2 separate regions of the Homo sapiens genome follow, and region 2 is linked to region 1. A link means that fine-mapping ties the variant in region 1 to the expression of a gene that starts in the linked region. Tissue or cell type: subcutaneous fat. Region 1 holds a variant in brackets; the other region holds the start of a gene. All regions are shown on one strand. Distances are between the middles of the regions.

Region 1 (2,676 bases):
GAGGGATGGTGTCCACCCTCAGGACCAAGGGCAGGCCCGTGCGGCTAGAACAGCGGGAAGGTGGGGGCACAGGCCACAGCAAGGATGCCCCACCCCACAGACACTCTCCTTTCACGTCTCTAGGAAAAACTTTTTATTACAAAATTTTTACAAGTAGGTGCTGGGCTGGCTGCCAGCCCGTGGGCTGTGACCCTCCCCAGTACAGACCCAGACTACACAGAAGGAGCCTCTAAGGGCTGATTCTCAGGACCAAGGCCCCACTCTCTGGAGACCCAGCCCTGAGGAGGAGGAGGAGGAGCACGGGGCCTGCAGTGATGCCCAGGCTGAAGCGGGCTGGAGGGGTTCAAGGAGCTGGATTGAGCGCTCTTTGCCCACCCAGGCTCCTGTGGGTACCAGAGTCTCAGTTCCTATTTCCTGGGCTGCCTTAGGGGCAGAGACGCTGAGGGTGGGGTGGAAGGATGGAGAAGACAGTGGTGGGGTGGAGCGGTGGGGGATAGAGGGTGGGTGGAGGAATGCAGGATACAGGGGCGGGGAGAGAGGTTGGGAGAGGGGTGGGTGGAGGGGTGGGGATACAGGGGTGGGAGGTACAGGGGTTGTGGGAGGGGTGGGAGTACGGGGTGGGGATACAGGGGTTGGGGGAGGGATGGGGCAGCTGCCCCCGTCGGCCCCTAAATGGTGCTTGGCAGCTTGGCGGAGTGCACCTGACGCAGCAGCAGGACAAGCGCAGCCAGGAGCGCGGAGGCGAAGAGCAGCAGGAGGACGACCCAGGAGCTGAAGTCTGTGCCCTTGCGCAGCCCCGGCGGGTCGGCGGGGATCAGGTTGGTCAGGTTCAGCATGTAGCCGAGCGCCCAGCCCACTGCAGTGTCCGCGGCCTGCGGGGAAGGGCGTGGCCTCAGCTCCCGAGAGGCCCCGCCCCGCAAGGTCGGCCCCGCCCCGCCCCGCCCCAGCCCACCTTCTTCTGGAAGATCACGCCGCCGAAGGCGCGCTCGTCGAAGCCGTAGCCGCGACTCAGCAGCTGCTGCACGAACATGGCCCCGGCGCAGTAGTCGGCCAGGCGGGCCCGTTGCCCTGGCACCCGAGCTTGCAGCTGGGACGCGGGCGGGACACCGTCAGGCAGGCGACCACCAGGAGGTCTCGGCCCCACGGGGAGAGGGGGCCGGCGGCGTGCTTCACCCCTCCCCAGACACACACGGGCCGTGCGAGGCCAGAGACCACCACACAGGCCCGGACACGAATGGCAAGACCGAGTCCGAGGGGCACCCCCGGCAGGGCACGCTTCCATCCCTCCCCAGCCAGCGCCCATGCCTGGAAGGCCAGTGAGGAGGGACAGCAGGCATGGCCACCAGGGAGCAGGAGGCAGCAACACCTTGGTGTGTGGCCAGGGGAACAGGACGAGCTCCAGGCCTGAGTCTGCCCGCTGGCT[C/G]GCCGCCTGTCCCCACCTCCCTCACCCCAGTCTGTCTGAGACTAGGCCCTGGGAGGACAAAATGGGGCCTCGCTCACCACCCCGGTCCTGGGACGACTCGTACGTTTCTCTTGGAGTCTCCGGTGGGCACACTCCCGGTGCCCAGACCCACTTCCATCTTCCCTTGTGTGGTACCATGGAGGGAACCAGTGGCAGAAGCCAGAAACCTGGGCACCGGCCTCCCCCTGCCCTCCAGATCTGGGATGAGGGTCGGGCCTGGCGAAGCTTCTCCAACCCGCCCGACTTGTTCACAGCCTACCGGCCACAGCCACGCCACCTCTGGAGTCAGCCTAATGCCTGCCATCGCCCCCACTGCAGCGGGTGCTCCGAGAGGCCTGTCCATGCAGGGCTGGGGAGGCATGCGGAGGCGGAGGCTGAGCCCTTCCGCACAGCCCTGAAGGAGTGGGAGCGGGGCTCACCTGAGCCCAGGTCTGGTTGCAGACATTCACTGCGGCTGCCTCCAGCTGCTGCAGGGTGGCCACGGGCAGCCCCATCGAAGTCCGCAAAAAGTCCACAGTGTAGAAGAAGGCAGAGAAGGCCTGTAGGGGGCGCAGTCACACTGTGACCGAACCCCAGCGGCTCAGAGCACCTGCTGCCACCCGCCTGTCCCTACTCACGACAAAGTTCCCAGCCACCCGCCTGCCCTTACCCACGACAAAGTTCCCAGCCACCCGCCTATCCCTACTCACGACAAAGTTCCCAGCCACCCGCCTGTCCCTACCCACGACAAAGTTCCCAGCCACCCGCCTGTCCCTACCCACGACAAAGTTCCCAGCCACCCGCCTGTCCCTACCCACGACAAAGTTCCCAGCCACCCGCCTGCCCCTACTCACCACAAAGTTCCCAGCCACTGGGGGCTGGAAGACCCCATTGAAAGAGCATCGGGAGAAGGGGCAGGAGGAGAAGCTGAAGAGCCCAGAAACCAGATCTCGGCAGAGGTGGGGGTCACTGCTCCCTGACAGGCTGACCCTGGCACTGCTGTTGAAGTTCTGGGGCCGCTGGGCCATGGTGCATGGTGACTGGTACACATCCCCGAGCAGCACTTGGGTGGAAAAGCCCCTCGGCCAGCAGGGGTGGAAGCCGTGGGTCTGGGGGAATCACCAGCGTGACAGGGTGGCACCACCACCGCTCCAGAGGACCAGCCTGACAAACCTCCCACAGGTCTCACTCTGGCAACTTCACTTTTGTGCTCAGGGGCAATCCATGGCTCCCCA
Region 2 (2,676 bases), 38 kb after region 1:
TCAGGGCCTCTTGTTAGAGTGTGACATAAACGACTTCATTTGGGTACCAGCAAGTGTCACAGGGGGCAGAGACCAGCAGAAACCTAAAGATGACCCCTAGAAGAGCAGGAGGCCAGGGGAACAGAGTTAGACGAGCCACGTGCTAAGCAGGACGTCGCTGCCGGGGGAGCTCTCCAGACACGCAGAAATGCCACAGTCAGGACCGTGGGACGCAGCGGATTCGCCCAAGGGCAGGAGCAGCCTGGCCAGGAGAGAATGAAGGAGGGGCCGGGCGTGAGGTTCGGCTGGGGAGAACCCAGGCAGGGAGGGCCTCGGGCGGCCACGGACGCCGCTTTGCCATTTTGGGCGTTTCTGGGGAGGACAACGCGTGCAGGAAGCGCAGTCATCTCAAGCTGACCTCCAAGGTTACCGAGTTCGAGGGCTGGGAGCCGGGTCTGAAAGCCCCGACCCGCCTATGGCGCGGGGACTGTGGGTCCAGCCGGCCGATTGGCCGCCTCGCTCGGCGCCGGTCCAGGCGCAGCGCTCGGGCCCCGGGGACCGTGAGATGCGGCGCAGCCAGCTTAGCTCGGGGTAGCAGCCACCCCAGCCCGGGTGCCGCCCGGCCTGGTCCGCGACTTCGGGAGGGTCCGGTCCTTCCCCCGGCCCCCACGCCTGGGTGAGGCCCTGGGCTTCTTGCCGGTGACCACGCGGCCAGGGTGGGCACCAGCCCAGGACGGCGCCCAAGGGCAGCCCAGCTCCATCCCCGCGCCGCGGGTTCCGGAACCGAGGCGCGGGACGCTGGGACTCTCTGCCAACATGGCGGCCCCGCCCGGGCGCCTCCCCGGGTCCCTAGTGTCTGCGTCTCCCGTGAGGGCGTGGGCAAAGTCGGTGCAGCCAGACGACAGGAGGCGAGAGAAGCCCAGCTCCAGGCCCATGAGGCGAACCACGTGGGAGCCCCAGACAGCGACCACGCCCCAGGCGAACCAAGGCCCGCCCCGTTGCTACAGCTACGCTCGTAGCACACCTGGGCAGGCGCTGCCGGACGCATGCGCAATGAACCTGAGGGCAGGGCGGAGTCGCAGCAGTTGTCTGACGCAGTCGCCGTAGGACGCAGCCCCGTACGCTGGAGCGCAGCGGAGACAGGCGCGGGCGCACTGGCCGCATAGAGACGCAGCGCACGCGCAGTCGCGTATCCGTGTGATGGGCGGGCTGTTGACGGCGCTGCGATGGCTGCCTGCGAGGGCAGGAGAAGCGGAGCTCTCGGTTCCTCTCAGTCGGACTTCCTGACGCCGCCAGTGGGCGGGGCCCCTTGGGCCGTCGCCACCACTGTAGTCATGTACCCACCGCCGCCGCCGCCGCCTCATCGGGACTTCATCTCGGTGACGCTGAGCTTTGGCGAGAACTATGACAACAGCAAGAGTTGGCGGCGGCGCTCGTGCTGGAGGGTGAGGGTCGCGCCGGGCTGACTGGGGCCCGGGGCTGCCGTGCCCGCCGCCCTCCCAGACTGCGGCTCCGAGCGGGACCTGGGCGGGCGGACTCGACTCCCCAGGCGCCGCCCTCTCCACCCCTTCCCCGCAAAAAGGGGCAAATGTGCGTTCCTGGTTGGGGCAGCCGTGGGCGGCTCGCCTGCAGCGGTCTCAGCGGCCCAAATTCTGCGGGGCGGTGGTGGGAAGAGGGCTCAGAGCCCCAGCAGGTTTTCTGGGCTTCGTTCGCTTTTCTGCAAGGTCCTGGCCCAGGCGCCTGCCCCTCTTGGAGCGGAAACCGGAGGTTCCCCGTGGTGTATGCTCCCCTCGGTACAGTGAGAAATGAGCCCCTCTTGATTGGCTCCTGGTCTGTTCGTGGTGGTCTCAGGCCGAAGGGCATTGATAACCACATGCGGACTGTGCATCGCCTGGGCGGTGCCTGGGCTACATCTGTGGGAGTCGCAGGAGTCTTTCTCCACTGTTGATGAAATGTGACAGAAATGTTTCTGCTTTTTTCTTATCCTCGTCTCATCTGCACCACTGTATTAACGACATCTGTAGTATTGTCCCAGCAATGTTCCTACTCCCTGCTGAGAGGGAACTTCTCCCCATTCAAAATAAATAGAGCTGGCCGGGCACGGTGGCTCATCCCGCGTTCCACCCACTACACTCCAGCCTAGGTGTAACAGAATGAGACCCTGTTTCCAAAAAAAAAAAGAAATAGAGCTGAACACTGGATCTTCCAGAAGAATTCCTTATTGTCCTCACAGTTTGTGACAGTTGAGACGTTCCGTGTGATATATTCAGTAAGAAATGTCATTCTCTGTACCTCCCTTAGAAATGGAAGCAACTGTCGAGATTGCAGCGGAATATGATTCTCTTCCTCCTTGCCTTTCTGCTTTTCTGTGGACTCCTCTTCTACATCAACTTGGCTGACCATTGGAAAGGTATCAGAAACACGTGTACTTGAAAACGATATCTGTGTTGAGGGTTGATTGGGCAGAAGCAATCTTGCATTCTACCTTAAACAGCTCCAGGAGGCATATATGGCAACGAATTGGCAAGAAATCAAGATAAAGAGAAAGGTAGAGCTGTATGTAACCACCTGGCTAGAACACAGATGTTAATTTGATGCTGTCTGACTACTTTCTAGGTCTCTGGTGTAAGTACTGATATGTCCAGCCTCCCTTATAGAGTAAGTCAGCTGGTGGGCTTGAACACTCAGCCTAAATAA

The links. PIP is the estimated chance that this variant, and not a neighbour inherited with it, causes the effect.
Region 2: MAN1B1 starts here. The variant in region 1 is fine-mapped to the expression of MAN1B1 in subcutaneous fat (GTEx, PIP 0.99).

The regions. Positions count from the first base shown.
Region 1 is chr9:137,047,989-137,050,664 of GRCh38, forward strand. ENTPD2 (ectonucleoside triphosphate diphosphohydrolase 2) reads right to left here. Exons shown (of 9, transcript NM_203468.3): 6 at 2,296-2,550; 7 at 1,882-2,001; 8 at 953-1,087; 9 at 119-872. The coding sequence ends at 669. Among named protein-coding and RNA genes, the nearest start is that of NPDC1, 3.2 kb to the left of the region's middle. RefSeq lists enhancers at 656-1,184, 1,185-1,713 and a silencer at 2,051-2,110. The variant C/G (reference allele first, on the strand shown) is at 1,424.
Region 2 is chr9:137,085,795-137,088,470 of GRCh38, forward strand. It overlaps MAN1B1 (mannosidase alpha class 1B member 1), which reads left to right and starts at 1,191. Exons shown (of 13, transcript NM_016219.5): 1 at 1,191-1,424; 2 at 2,281-2,389. The coding sequence starts at 1,206. It overlaps MAN1B1-DT (MAN1B1 divergent transcript), which reads right to left and starts at 1,023. Exons shown (of 1, transcript NR_027447.1): 1 at 1-1,023. RefSeq lists silencers at 545-774, 1,325-1,554 and an enhancer at 1,115-1,344.